2 separate regions of the Homo sapiens genome follow, and region 2 is linked to region 1. The links come from fine-mapping of genetic effects on gene expression. Tissue or cell type: whole blood. Region 1 holds a variant in brackets; the other region holds the start of a gene. All regions are shown on one strand. Distances are between the middles of the regions.

Region 1 (8,090 bases):
GGCAGGCACCTGTAGTCCCAGCTACTCGGGAAGCTGAGGCAGGAGAATGGCGTGAACCCTGGGGGGCGGAGCCTGCAGTGAGCCGAGATCGCGCCACTGCACTCCAGCCTGGGTGACAGCAAGACTCTGTCTCAAAAAAAAAATAAAAAAGAATGAGCCACCGTGCCTGTCATCTGTTGTAAAATCTTGAGTGTTTCTACCCCACTTTGAAGATCACTGTCCAGAACTGAAACCAGACGTTGCTAATACTGATTGAAGTTTTAAGTAGCAAAAAATTAGTGTGAGTTTCAGAAGTCGCCCTTGGAAATCTCTAGGTTAACAGTGTTAATGCATAGATATATGGCTGTATGCAGCATATCTACACAGCAAATTAGATGTTATGTTGGGGGAAAATGAGTTTTTTAATTAAGTTTTTCAATATTAAGCAGTTAGATAATTAAACGAATTTTACCCAAGTAAAGCTTGGCATTTTTGTTTAGGTGAGGGAAACTCATTTTAAAATGAAAACCTCAAAGGTAAAATAAATTCGTCTAATATGTTCACTAAATATTTTTACTTATTTTGACAAGAAATGCATTTTTGTTTCTTACCTGTATTATAGGATATTCACCTTGCGAAACGTTTTTATGACATGGCAGCTGAAGCCAGCCCAGATGCACAAGTTCCAGTCTTCCTAGCCCTCTGCAAATTGGGCGTCGTCTATTTCTTGCAGTACATACGGGAAACAAACGTAAGTGGTCCGTACCTCTTTTCATTAAAATATAAATGATGGAAGGTCTGTCCTGGAGGTTTGTTTTTCAAAAGTTGAGAAGCACAGGGAAGAGTGGTCCTGCAGGTATCGGGTGTGTTCCCTTCTCCTCAGCTCAGGTACCCGAGGACCTTATCAGGGGAGGGATAAATGCAGGCATAAAGCAGCTACTGCAGTTTTTAGGTAGCGTTTGACACTTCCTGACGCTAAAGCATTTTTCATGGAGGCAGATGTTTTCTGGTTTAGGGAAAACTGAGACTAACTCATGGCAGTTTGAAACAGTATTTAATTCAGTAAACATTAAATCAGATGACTCAAACCAGTCCCTTAAAAAGAAAAGGAAAAAAAAAAGAAGAATCTGAGAACCTCCCCAGGTTGTTGTACTTCAGATTCTTCCGATAGTGAAGCATTAAGTTGAAAACACCACCCAAATTTTCTTCTCTAAAAATAGCGTGAATTATTTAAATAGGCTAATGGAAGAACCTATATAGGAAGTGGGTTACCCATTTTCTTCAAAATTACCAACTTTAGTTGGCAATACTGGTATGTAGGTACTCTTGGGTTCTGCCAGCTTTATATTTTGTTTCCAGTACTATAGTTCCTAGAATGGATTAACTGGTAGAGCATTTCACTCTGAAAGCCCTAAGATGTTCAGAGCCCTTGTTTCTAACATAGGCTTATTCAGGACAAGGAAAGTTTCTTCAGGACCAGAAAAGGATGATGTTTCACCCTTTTGTTAATGTCTTTCAGTTTTAGATTCAAGAATGGGCTTTCCCTCATGTGTGTCACAGGTATAAATGTAGTCCATGCTGCTCCAGCATCAGTGAAAAGAAATGGACTTGTCTAGTCCATGCAGCTGAAGTCCTCCACAGATAGGGTTCCAGAGCACTGGTCTTGTGGGACTCTGGCCTCCCAGTCGCTTCCACATGTGTAATGTCAGTTGCTATAATTGCATGGTAGCATGAGTCAGGTGTGCTGTAACCGCTGCCAATTGAAACAATCTTTGTTCCTTTAATTAAAAGCTGATCGTGTGGCAGCCTCCTCTTTCTCTTTCAGTACCATTTCAGACCTTTATCTCTCACAATTTTTATTACTAACTGTTGGTTATAGTCTAGGACTTCATCTTATAATATGCTGTACTGGGTATATTGTATCTTTGCTGTTTTTTTTAATACAGAAGTATAAAGAAGACAGTAAAAACGCCCCATAATCCTACCACCTAGTTATTCCAACTAAAAAGAAAAAGAGAGTATAAGACTAATAAGTATCGATCATAAGAAAGTCAAACAGTACAGAAGAACACAAATCTCCCATCCCAGATTCTTCCCCAGAGAACACAATTAGTGGTTTCTTGTCATTTTTTTTCCAGAAAAATTTAGCACCTGTACCTACAAACGTGTTATAGAGATCTTTCAAATGTAATTTTATATAAAATTATACCCCATGTTTACTTTCTTAATGGGTAAGTATAATAAAAGTCAGAAAGTATCAGTGATACTAAAACAATTAAAATATTATAGGCTAAGAACATAACTTTCAGGTTTCAATTCAGATGTTAAATATTTTGTGTTTTAGTTAAATCCTAATTGAGAAGCATTATTCATTCAGCTATTAAATGTTTGAATTCCTGCTATTTTCAATTACATGGGAATTGTGAAATGGCCCCACTGTCATGGAACAGAGCTTTCCAGCTGGTGTGCTGTCACTGCCAGTAGGTTCGCTGTGCCAAGATACTAATTTCTCCCCTTGGCTCACCACTGTTTTTTTCTTTTTTCTTTCCTGAGACAGAGTCTTGCTCTGTCGCCCAGGCTGGAGTGCAGTGGCACAGTCTCGGCTCACCGCAACCTCCACCTCCTGGGTTCAGGCAATTCTTGTGCCTCAGCCTCCAGAATAGCTGGGATTACATGCACCCGCCACCATGCCTGGTTAATTTTTGTATTTTTAGTAGAGATGGGATTTCACCGTGTTGGCCAGGCTGGTCTTGAACTCCTGGCCTCAAGTGATACACTCACCTCGGCCTCCCAAAGTGCTGGGATTACAAGGCCTGAGCCCCCGCGCCTGGCCCCAGTGTTGTTTTGTTTTGTTTTGTTTTCCAAATATTTTCTGTGAAAAATGATTAAAATTAGCGTATTGGATTACTGGTGGAAAGAACACTGTCAGACATTTTATATTAAGTGTCAGCTATTATAAATTAGTAGCTTAATTCCTCAGACACATTATTTTGAGCTTCAGTTGAAGGCTTTTAAAACCGCTTTAAACACACACACACACACACACACACACACACACATTGCAAAACGTTTTTAAAACAAATTATTTTAATTTCTGTACTTACTTCTGGTGATGTAACTTTCCCAGTTCCTTGCCTGACATTTTAGTGATAATAATGGTTTCTATATTATTTTCATTAAGATTCGAGATATGTTCACCCAACTTGATATGGACCAGCTTTTGGGACCTGAGTGGGACCTTTACCTCATGACCATCATTGCGCTGCTGTTGGGAACAGTCATAGCTTACAGGCAAAGGCAGCACCAAGACATGCCTGCACCCAGGCCTCCAGGGCCACGGCCAGCTCCACCCCAGCAGGAGGGGCCACCAGAGCAGCAGCCACCACAGTAATAGGCACTGGGTCCAGCCTTGATCAGTGACAGCGAAGGAAGTTATCTGCTGGGAACACTTGCATTTGATTTAGGACCTTGGATCAGTGGTCACCTCCCAGAAGAGGCACGGCACAAGGAAGCATTGAATTCCTAAAGCTGCTTAGAATCTGATGCCTTTATTTTCAGGGATAAGTAACTCTTACCTAAACTGAGCTGAATGTTTGTTTCAGTGCCATATGGAATAACAACTTTCAGTGGCTTTTTTTTTTCTTTTCTGGAAACATATGTGAGACACTCAGAGTAATGTCTACTGTATCCAGCTATCTTTCTTGGATCCTTTTGGTCATTATTTCAGTGTGCATAAGTTCTTAATGTCAACCATCTTTAAGGTATTGTGCATCGACA[C/G]TAAAAACTGATCAGTGTAAAAAGGAAAACCCAGTTGCAAGTTTAAACGTGTTCGAAAGTCTGAAAATAGAACTTGCCTTTTAAGTTAAAAAAAAAAAAAGCTATCTTGAAAATGTTTTGGAACTGCGATAACTGAGAAACTCTTACCAGTCCACATGCAATTAGACATATTCAGCATATTTGTTATTTTAAAAGGGAGGGTTGGGAGGTTTCTTATTGGTGATTGTCACACGGTATACCATACTCCTCTCCTTCAAAGAATGAAAGGCCTTGTTAAGGAGTTTTTTGTGAGCTTTACTTCTTTGGAATGGAATATACTTATGCAAAACCTTGTGAACTGACTCCTTGCACTAACGCGAGTTTGCCCCACCTACTCTGTAATTTGCTTGTTTGTTTTGAATATACAGAGCCTTGATCCAGAAGCCAGAGGATGGACTAAGTGGGAGAAATTAGAAAACAAAACGAACTCTGGTTGGGGTACTACGATCACAGACACAGACATACTTTTCCTAAAGTTGAAGCATTTGTTCCCAGGATTTATTTTACTTTGCATTTCTTTTTGCACAAAGAACACATCACCTTCCTGAATTCTTTAAATATGAAATATCATTGCCAGGGTATGGCTTACAGTGACTACTATTATAATACTAAAACTCAGAGAATCAAAGATGGATTAAACTCAGTGGTTGATGAAAGCCAAAACCTGTTTGTACTGTTCTATACTATTCAGGTATCTTTTTATTTCTGATAGTTTTATATTATAATAGAAAGCCAGCCACTGCTTAGCTATCATAGTCACCATTTTCTCACTGTTAACATTAGGAAAATCAAGGCTACTATGCTTCAGGATTGTCTGGTTAAATAGTATGGGAAAAAAACTGAAGAGTTTCACATAATTACACACGTGAAATAATTAAAGCTTAAACTGAATTTGTATTTCATTTTATTGTCAGATGGTGGTGTTCACCAGCCTGTATCTTGTCTGAGACTGCATTCGTATCTGAGCAGGTTTTCTATGCCTACTGATGTCAGTATGTTTATACTAACCTTCATGCTTTTTTCCCAGAATCCCTCATCTGCCAGAAAACTTGAAAAGTTTATTGCTTGTAGAGTTGTACTGCTTTGATTTTTGAAGTTGGGGTAGTAGTTAGAACTAGATTTAACTAGTCTATAATGAACATGAAGGCTTTTATATATGAAGTTGTATACCTTTTTGTGTTTAGAGAATTATGGGAAACCTGGTAAGCAAAACTTTCCTCCCAGATAATTGCTTCCAAATTCGAAGAGTTAGTCACCAAGAGAGCCATATGTATGAAAGCGTATCTGTGAAAGGTAGGAAACTTACCCCCCCTAAGTGTAATGTTGCTTTAGGCAACTCTTGTAAATAGTGAGACTTGTTTGGTCTCTTACATGTAGAGATTTGAGTGCAGTTGGTACAGTACTTTGGTGTCTCCACCACTGTCCCTTCTCCCCGCTTCAAAATAAGTGTAATCCACGGTAGCAGCCACACTTCCTTTAGAAGGAACTGTTATAATTTATTTAAAAGTTGAAAAACCACCCAAGATGACTACCAACTTTCACTTTTTTCTTCTGCCATCCACCCTCATTTTTCCTTTAGCAAGATTTTTATATCTAACTTTCCTTCCCTCCATTGAGTACGTGCTTTGAGAAAACATTTCTTAAAACAGTGTGTGCCACCTAAGGCTGGATGGGAAAGTGCAGTCTTGTTGTTCATATAAAAACACACTTCTTATTAGTTTACCACTTGCCTTTTTCTATTGTTAATGTTCTGAATTTCCTTTTCTTGGCTTGTTTCTACTTCATTTTACCCTGGGTCACTTGCTGCCAGCAGTTTGTGAATGGTGTCTTTCAAATAACTTAGTTCTTATGGCTTCACTTAAAGACTGTCTCAAAAATACTTTGCTCTCTTCTTCTTTTTTGTTCATGGGACATGGTACCTAAGCAAATAGGAGTTGGGTTTGGTTTTTCTCCTAAAATAATGCTCAATACTTACCTAATCAAATGGCATCCATTTGAATAAAATGACAATAACTAAAGCTAGTTAATGTCAGTGACATTAAACTAACTCCAGGATTCAGGAGTTTTAATGTTAGAATTTAGATTTAACAGATAGAGTGTGGCTTCATTTGTCCATGGTAGCCCATCTCTCCTAAGACCTTTTCTAGTCTGTCTTCCTGCCTTCGAACTTGATGACAGTAAAACCCTGTTTAGTATTCTCTTGTGCATTTGGTTTGTTGGTTAGCCGACTGTCTTGAAACTATTCATTTTGCTTCTAGTTTTATTTTACAGAGGTAGCATTGGTGGGTTTTTTTTTTTTTTTCTGTCTCTGTGTTTGAAGTTTCAGTTTCTGTTTTCTAGGTAAGGCTTATTTTTGATTAGCAGTCAATGGCAAAGAAAAAGTAAATCAAAGATGACTTCTTTTCAAAATGTATTGTTTAGCACTTAACTCAGATGAATTTATAAATTATTAATCTTGATACTAAGGATTTGTTACTTTTTTGCATATTAGGTTAATTTTTACCTTACATGTGAGAGTCTTACCACTAAGCCATTCTGTCTCTGTACTGTTGGGAAGTTTTGGAAACCCCTGCCAGTGATCTGGTGATGATCTGATGATTTATTTAAAGAGCCGTTGATGCCTCCAGGAAACTTAAGTATTTTATTAATATATATATAGGAATTTTTTTTTATTTTGCTTTGTCTTTCTCTCCCTTCTTTTATCCTCATGTTCATTCTTCAAACCAGTGTTTTGGAAGTATGCATGCAGGCCTATAAATGAAAAACACAATTCTTTATGTGTATAGCATGTGTATTAATGTCTAACTACATACGCAAAAACTTCCTTTACAGAGGTTCGGACTAACATTTCACATGCACATTTCAAAACAAGATGTGTCATGAAAACAGCCCCTTTACCTGCCAAGACAAGCAGGGCTATATTTCAGTGACAGCTGATATTTGTTTTGAAAGTGAATCTCATAATATATATATGTATTACACATTATTATGACTAGAAGTATGTAAGAAATGATCAGAACAAAAGAAAATTTCTATTTTCATGCAAATATTTTTCATCAGTCATCACTCTCAAATATAAATTAAAATATAACACTCCTGAATGCCTGAGGCACGATCTGGATTTTAAATGTGTGGTATTCATTGAAAAGAAGCTCTCCACCCACTTGGTATTTCAAGAAAATTTAAAACGATCCCAAGGAAAGATGATTTGTATGTTAAAGTGACTGCACAAGTAAAAGTCCAATGTTGTGTGCATGAAAAGGATTCCTTGGTTATGTGCAGGGAATCATCTCACATGCTGTTTTTCCTATTTGGTTTGAGAAACAGGCTGACACTATTCTCTTTGATTAGAAAATAAACTCATAAAACTCATAATGTTGATATAATCAAGATGTAACCACTATAAATATGTAGAAGAGGAAGTTTTAAAAGACCTTAAGCTGGCATTGTGAAGGAACACCATGGTAGACTCTTTTTGTAAATGTATTTTGTATTTAATGAAATGCAGTATAAAGGTTGGTGAAGTGTAATATAATTGTGTAAACAAATCCTGTTAATAGAGAGATGTACAGAATCGTTTTGTACTGTATCTTGAAACTTGTGAAATAAAGATTCCACCTCTGGTTATCCTGTATGCTGTAATATACCACAACCAAGCACCTTTCCAGACAGACTTTTTTTAAGCTGAATGATTCAATTTTTTAATGTTTTTTGGAAATTCAGAAGCTTCTGAAAACATTCACTTGTGGCAATTTGAATTTATCTTTCATTTTAAACTCCTGAAATTCAGATTTTTACAAGTCCAATATTGCCCTAGGGAGAACATGAATTTGCTAAGAAATGTTATCTTTTAAATCTCTGATATCTTTGTCTTGAAGCAGCCTTGATATGTAGTAAGCGTGATTCACTTTAGCCTGATTATAATATTATTTATCTAAAGTTTGTTTATGCATTGCCTTGTCCCAGGAATTTTTTAAGAGGACTTGCAGAGACACGTACCACACAGTAACATTTAGACTAAATATGCTCTGAGTAAAGGAGAAATGAAAAAATATTAAATCAAGAGTGAACATGTACACAAAGTGCAATTGGAAGTGGGCTACAAATTTGGCCCCCAGCTTCCCAGCAGGCAACTCAAAGAGGTAACTGAGGTAAAATGTTCCAGCTCAGAAGCATTGGATCTTGGATAAAAAGCCTACATGATGCAAACTGTGGCAACTGAGATGTCAGATCTCAAGATCTCAAATTGTACTTGTGGGAGCACAGTCAGTGACCCCAGATGACCTTGACTGACC
Region 2 (8,102 bases), 58 kb before region 1:
TTTTGCCTTCGCCTTGTGATCTTTATTGCCCTTTGAAGCATGTGATCCTTGTGACTTACTCCCTGTTCATACACCCCCTCCCCTTTTAAAATCCCTAATAAAAACTTGCTGGTTTTGCAGCTCGGGGTCATCATCATGGTCCTACCAATATGTGATGTCACCCCCAAGAGGCCCAGCTGTAAAATTCCTCTCTTTGTACTCTTTCTCTTTTTCAGACCAGCCAACACTTAGGGAAAATAAAAAAGAACCTATGTTGAAATATTGGGGGCTGGTTCCCCCGATAGAAGGCAGGGGCACTTCTAACAGCATCCAATCTAGAGCAAACCCAACTTCCTTAGTCTCTGACAAATCACCCAATCAAAGCCCAAATTCTAAGATAGGTTCTTTCTAATACCCTCCTACGGAGATACCTTATGGTGTATTTTTTTTCCACACTGCAATGAGTAATAAAGCCAATGTGCTCAACTACAGGAATGTTCCTGTATATTTGTGGAAGGAAGGAAGGACCTGTGAAAATAATGTTCCTAATGCAACATTCACTAATTAAATACATTGCTATCTACTCAAGGGTTAACTGAATTTAATGGGAGCTCTAAGCTGTTTATCTCTACCTTATAAAGTTCACTTCATCGAGTTCTTATTTAAATTTAGTTATAATCCAGTCTCTCCCTGGAACTAGCAGTTAACAAATTTATGAAAATATTGGACCCAAGGATGCCTGTCCAGTTATTTAGGGTAAAAACATATCCTGGCCTTTCCTTTATCTGGTATGAGTCAACACTGCTCAGAGAACACACATGTCCAGAGCAAATGTCACCTCACGATGAAACTTGGTAAACAGCCTGAGGCTCCCTCCCCCCTTTCATCTTCTATCAGCTTCAAACATTAGGTAGATCAAACATACTCCTCCACAATCTATGATCTGCAATCCAAACTTAATGCTCTTAATTATAATCATGGAAACTGGCATGAACACCCAAAACTTATTAATTTGATCACTTTGATCACCTGCCATATGCTGTCCTGAAGTTAGGAGGGATAAGATGAGGTATAAGTCCATTGTTCATTTACTCCAAGAGCTCAGAATATAAATAAGAAGATGCCAGGTTCTATCTCACTATATAATGCAAGAGTTTATATTTTCATTTATGCATGAAAACTTTAATTTACCTCATCTATAGGAAAGAAAGTACATTCTTTTCTAAGCCCTGAAGGGAAAAATATTCTGCTTCTTGCTTCTCCCTAATCCTGCCCTGGCAAATACCTTAATACAAATGCTGACAGTCTTGCCTATTACCAATTCAAATGGAACGCAAAGAAAAGCACAGGAAAGGATATATCCCACTAGAGTTGGTGACAATTGCCCCATTCTCAGGAAAAGTCTCTGGAGGTTGTCTCACCATCCTTAAGTGAAAAGCAAGTTGGATTTATGTCCTCAACACGTTCAGGTTCTCAGCATTTGTTAATTGCTTGATTCATTTCAATGGCATGAGGTTACATCAGTGTCATCTGCATTAAAAGGTGTTTATTACCTACCTCTGTTGAGTGCTATGCTGTGCTGCAATGCAGAGCAAACAGGTTTTCTGCAACTTGGAAATCTCTGACAATGACCCAGAATGCTGATATGGACAGATGGAATAAAGACAGCTGAGCAAATATTGAAGCAGTCTAAGAATTAATAAATAATATTAACATTTTGTACAAGTACATAACCTTAACTGGGAATGCTGGCAGGTAACCTTGAGGAGTGTATGCACAGACTGGATAGGCCATGGAGAATTCACAACCTTTTTTCTAATTAATCTCATGTAATATAGCAGGCTGATAAAATAAATCTGACTTTCCCACAGCATATTCTGAACCACTTTGGAGACTTGGAACTTCCCCAGGAAGTCAGGTCCTATGAGAATTCTCAGAGCACGTCAGCTACTCATTGCTGGCTAAAGGCAAAAGCTCTAGCAGCTCTAAGCCCTTTTCGCATTAAGGGTATAAAACTAATTTCCCTCCTTCGCCTCAACCAAGCAATCAATAAGAAACAATACTATATGTAAAACATCCTACAATGTAGAAAGTGCTTTTATCCTGTGTCTCCATTTTGAATCTCACAACAGACAGGCAAGACATATCTATCAACCAATAAATAATTAACTAGTGCTAGTGGTGGCAAGTCCAGCACTATATACCTATACACAGAATCACATGATCATCTCCAGCCTCAGCATGTTTACAATCTGTTTATAAGGCAAGATTGTGAGTGTTCAATAGATTCTTAGAGAAATGAAGATTAATGAGGACAGATCTGGTTGGAGAAGTGTGATCCAAGACGAAATGTGAATGAAATTGGGAAGGATGCCAGAGTTATGGCTAAGTGAAAGAAGCAAGGGCAGTTGGAGAAAGGGTAGAGGAACCCTTAGGAAGACATGATTGTGTTAATGTGAAATCTGGAAAGTAAAACGGAAGTGGCTATTTGGTCCATGCAGCAGCACCCAGAACAACCCTTAAATATAAGACGTACTCAGTAAAGACAAAACTGAAAAAAGAAGTTGGGGCTTAACTAAGCAGCAAACTTTCCCCAGTTTTAATCAAACAGATAATCACTGGCTCTTCTGTAGAAGGCAGAAGTTTCTTCCCTGGTACTTCCCCAACAGAGTAGAACTGTCAGCACAGTTCCTATTTTGTGAGTAGAATAAGTTCTAATTTTTTTTATTCTGTGAAAAGTGTAGCCATTGAAAATTTTCAATAGGCATATGAAAGCAGTGTTTAAGGAAAATTAATATGGCCATGATATGTGATTCAGGTTAAAGGGAGAATGATGTCAGTGAGTATGGCTGGAACTCAGGTGCATCATCCAGGTGAGAGAAAATGAAAGCCATTAGGGGAGTTTTCAGTGAGGAAGAGAACAGAGGTACATAATAAAATAAAACAATTTAAAAGTTACATAGTTTAAACTGATAGAACTTGATTATCAATAAGATGAAAAAGAAAGGAAAATATACCAGATTTTACTCTATGATTTATAATCAGAGGAACTCAGAGGGAACATTGTTAGTGACAGAAATGGTGATGTAGCTGAAAAGACAAGTTTTTGGAGGAGATAATTCTTTCCTTCATCTCCTCCGATGTGAATGAGAAACAGTGGTTGGTTTTTTACCATCTTCCTGAAAATAAAAGGCTGTATCTCAAAAAACAAAAAACAAAAAACAAAAAAAAAAAGGAAGGAAGACAAATGCCCAGAAGTGTTAAGACACATGGCCAGCAGAGACTTTTCCAAAGTCCTTCACTTGGCTGGACTAGGTTCTAGGCCTTAGAGCTGACTGTGGGTGGATGACAGGGAAAGCAGAATGACACGGTTTGAGAAAAGAAAGGGCAGGCACACCAAGTCACTGCTCTGCTACTCAGTTGGAACATGCCTGGATTTCGTGCTTATTACATAGAGTATTTCCGTGCCTGCGATGCAATCACTATCACCTCTACCTCCACACACGTGAACCTGGTCTCCTGACTTTAGTTAGGAAAGAAGAGAACAATGCAACTCACAAGAGGAGAAGGATGAGGACAAGTGTTTAAAATAATTTTTCAAAGCTGTTGGCACATTTTCTTTATGATTATTGTCTGGTGAACCTAGTGAAAATAAATACTGTATTGAGATAATCTGTGCCGAGCGGATTTATTTCCTTTTGTTTTGTCGGAGAAAGGAGGACAGGTACTGAGTTGCACCCTGGTTTCCGTACTTCACGGTACTGTTTTATCTAAGTTTTAAAAAACACCTCAAATTCAACTAGCTGTGGCATTTTTCTCAGTGCTCTTATCACTATGCCCAATTTAAATTTTTTAAATAAAACAGGAAAAGATGCTAAACACATTACAAGTTCTTAAAATTATTCCTTAATATTTATTTTGGGTCAATTTAAAAAGGCTTGTGAATCCATAGCCTTGAGTTAATATTTAGCCCAGGTGTTAGTTAAATTCTAACTTCAACAGTCACCCGCACTTGTAAATCTTGCCCTACGATGGACTACGTTTCCCAAGAGCACCCCCCGAGTTAATCACATGAAGCGCATTCTGGGAATTGTAGTCTCGGATGAGCCTCTTTCTCCCAGTCTTGGACTCACGCGCTGATTCCGGTTGAACCCAGGGGCTACCAATTAGCTGGGGCCATGTCCGTGAGTCGTGGTCCAACCGAGAAAGCTGGTGTGGGAGCTTCGTACAATGATTGGCCAATGAATGACCCCCGGGGCGGAGCAATGGGGGTGGGCGGGGAGACCATGGTGATTGGACCAGAAGCCCGCGACGGCGGGCGGGGATTGGCTGCGCGCTGGGTCAGGGAAGCCTGGGAAGGGGCGGAGGAAGGAGACTAGAGCAGGAAGAGCAGCGGCGAGGCGGCGGTGGTGGCTGAGTCCGTGGTGGCAGAGGCGAAGGCGACAGCTCTAGGGGTTGGCACCGGCCCCGAGAGGAGGATGCGGGTCCGGATAGGGCTGACGCTGCTGCTGTGTGCGGTGCTGCTGAGCTTGGCCTCGGCGTCCTCGGGTCAGTATCCGCCCCCTCGGGCTGAAGGCCCAGAGCCTCCGCCCCCCAGCCTCTACAGCCGGCGGGGCCGTGGGGACTCCAGGCTCGGGACCCCGTTCTCCCTGGGCACATCTCGCACTGGGCTGTCACTCGCTCTTTGGCTTTGCTTGGCCTGCGCCAAAGGGGCTATTTAGGAAGGTGGAGTGGGGTGGAAAAAGAAGGGGCGGTCACCCTGCCCACACCTCTCTCCCACGTAACAAACTTTGCGCGACTCTTCTCACGAACGCGGAATTGACTCCAAAGGAATGAATCCTGATACAGGAGCCCGAGTGGAGCTTCCTCGACCCTGGGGTAGAGGAAGGGTCTGGTCTAGAACTCTGGGCTTGGGAATTGTAAGTTAAATAATTGACAAACCTGGAGCTGTCACTTTGGGGCAGAGGAGGATCCATCCAGACCAGGATGTTGACAGTAGTTTGCTTAACACCTGAGATGGTCCCTGGTCTGTCTGTTTAAAAACGAAGACTTTTGATCTCATCGTAGCCACTTTTTACTTTTTTGAAACCTTCCTGAGAAAGCGGTGACCTGTCACAGTGTTTCTGAGTTGCCCCATGTTTGTTGACAGTCATTTTATGATGTTTGGGAAAATCTTGGTTCTTATAAGATGCGTTTTATATAGATACAGAAATTTGTGTGCTTTTGAATTGATTTTCCAGTTAGCTAATGTTTATTCTGGTTCTGCTTTTTTCCCCCTTTTTTAATGTTTTAATCTGCCTACATTTGAAAATTTCCATTTTGAGAGTGTTCATGAAAACTTCGTGTTTCTAAGTGTTGATAAATAAAAATTAGTACAGTAAAACTTTGGAATTTTAATCAGTTTCAGTTAACAGGACAGGTGTTCTGTGGCTTGACGTTTTGGGGGGACAACACGGAGTATAAATGTCAGCTTTTTCTTTTTTTAATAAATGTCAGCTTTTTTTTAACAGAAAATTTCCCAGATGGTTATCTGAATCCCCAAATTACCTGTCCTAGTTGTAAATCAATGCCATAACGTCATTCTGCTTCTAAAATAAGAGGCTTAAACCTAAATTCTATCCATGATGTGGTTTGAGATACCATTTCAAAAGCACCAACCCTATGCTAATTACTTTACTGCCAACATCATTCTTTCAGGTCCACTCCCCTCCCTCCAGTAGTAGTGATGGTTTGAGTTAATGACCAGATCTTTAGACTATACTTAACTCTCGAAGCACTTTTAGCAGTTATTTAATATTTGATCAAAAAGCATGAAATGAAGCTGTTGAGCTTAATGAGTAGAGTACCTGCTGGACCATGGACCTCCTGCATCAGAATTCCTCTTATGGGTTTGTTAAACATTGGGTTTTAGGTCTGGAACAGCTCAGGTATACATAGATTAACAATCTCCATGAGGGATTCTTCACACTAAAGAGAACTACAGTAATGAAAGAGCACGGTGTGTATCCCTCTGAATTTAATTGGCAGAGTTTAAAGAAAATTAAAGCATAGGAATTGTGCTGTCTGTCTTTGACTGCATTTTATATACTTAGAGCTCCATGCCAGTGGAAAAGATATTTGAAGATCAACAGTTGGGGCTTTCAGGATGTTGTAATAAAAGACTTAACACTGATATATTAAATCCTTGGGTTGTATTGATGTAGGTAGAGGACTGTATTCAAGAAATGTCTGCTCTGATTTCCATCATAGTTAAAGCTGTGCCACAACATTTCAATGGTAAAGGCAGAAGCCTTAGCCAGAACTAAAACAATGTAGATGTGCATGCTAAAAGGTAATAAAGGCAGTGCTGTGCTCACATGAAGTTCATATATCATAAAACACCTGTGCGGGCCCAGCTCATACCTGTAATCCCAGCACTTTGGGAGGCTGAAGTGGAAGGATCACTTGAGCCCAGGAGTTCAAGACCAACCTGGGCAACATGGCGAAACCCCATCTCTACGTAACTCCAGGTGTGATGGTGCACACGTGTAGTTCCAGCTACTCGGGAGGCTGAGGTGGCAGGATGGAGTGAGCCCCAGGAGGTTGAGGCTGCACTGAGCTGTGATTATGCCACTGCACTCCAGCCTGGACAATAGAGCGAGACCCTGTCTCAAAAAAAAAGAAAAAAAAACAACCCTGTGTTAAATAAAGTTGTGTAAATTAAGCTATGGATTTTCAATTGTGATTTTCATTCACAGGGTTTCGGCCTCAAAGTTTAAAGTTTTACTCCAGTATTAAAATCAAGTTTTTGGTTATAATTTTGTGTTTGAACATTAGTGGTTACCCAGGGCAGGTCGCATCTCTCCAGGTGGAGTATGGTCAGCCAACAAAGAGAATCTTGATTCTATTGCTGTTGATAGCTGTTAGCTAGTATCATGTTTTAGAAGCATGTAAAAATATGATATAGTCACATGCTACATAATGACATTTTGGTCAACAATGAACCCCATGTAAGATGGTGGCCCTGTAAGAATATAATGGAGCTGAAAAATTCCTGTCACCTAGTGACATTGTAGCCATTGGAACATGGTAGCACACTTTTTAAAAAATAAATTTAGTGTAGTTTAAGTGTACAGTGTTTACAATAGTGTATAGTAACATCCTAGGCTTCACATTCACTCACTCACTCACCCACAGCAACTCTTAATCCTGCAAGTTCCATTTATGGTAAGTGCCCTAGACAGGTATATGTTTTGTAATCTTTTACACCATATTTTCACTGTAGCTTTTCTATGTTTAGCTATGTTTATGTACACAAATACTTACTGTTATGTTACAGTTGCCTACAGTAGTCTGTATAGTCACATGCTGTACAGATTTGTAGCTTAGGAACAACAGGCTACACTATGTAGCCCAGGTATGTAGAAGGCTATCCCATTTAGGTTTAAGTATACAAAAAGGAAATCGCCCAGTGATACACTTTTCAGAACATATCCTCGTCATTGACACATGGCTAATATTAGAAACATTTTCTCTTTTCTATTAATAAATTTAAAGGAGGACACTAAAAAGATATTTCTTCATTTTCTCAGGATAATAGTGAAAAGGTTATAATTTTTCTCACAAATGCATGCTTTCTTATTTTTGGCAGAAGAGGCAAATGGCTTAACCTTTTTTTTTCTTTGTGCCAAGCAGTGTTAGTCATTTTAGTTAGGTCCACTGCCAGGTATTTCAGGTAATAATTATAAATTCAGAGAGTAGTTTTCAGACAGCAGAGGATGTTTAATTTCACTGTTTTGGTCGTTCCTTAAAATATTGTGAGTCAGCGGGACAGAGGTGTTACCCCTTTTGACAGATTGAGAAACAGAGGCTGAGCAAGCTTTTGTTACTGAACCATGTGTCAGAATTAACATGTGATGAAGCCAGGTTCCAGACCTAGCTCTCCAGGTCTCAGAATTGAAGAAATTTAGAATCGAGAGTATCTTAGGATCTGTACCAATTTAGAGCTAAAGCAGAGAACAGGATATCTGGTCTGTTTTCACCAAACTATTTAGACTTTCTGTGTTTAAAGGTTATCAGTCTGTTTAATTTACGTGATGAATGGAAAAATGATTTTGTAGTGATCACTTTTCCCTGAAAGCATA

The links. PIP is the estimated chance that this variant, and not a neighbour inherited with it, causes the effect.
Region 2: it holds the start of SEL1L, and the variant in region 1 is fine-mapped to the expression of SEL1L in whole blood (TOPMed, PIP above 0.99).

The regions. Positions count from the first base shown.
Region 1 is chr14:81,472,252-81,480,341 of GRCh38, reverse strand. It overlaps SEL1L (SEL1L adaptor subunit of SYVN1 ubiquitin ligase), which reads left to right. Exons shown (of 21, transcript NM_005065.6): 20 at 602-730; 21 at 3,161-8,090. The coding sequence ends at 3,370. Among named protein-coding and RNA genes, the nearest start is that of LINC02308, 26 kb to the right of the region's middle. The variant C/G (reference allele first, on the strand shown) is at 3,757.
Region 2 is chr14:81,530,100-81,538,201 of GRCh38, reverse strand. SEL1L (SEL1L adaptor subunit of SYVN1 ubiquitin ligase) reads left to right here and starts at 4,349. Exons shown (of 21, transcript NM_005065.6): 1 at 4,349-4,527. The coding sequence starts at 4,458. RefSeq lists enhancers at 1-275, 4,062-4,561 and a silencer at 4,226-4,345.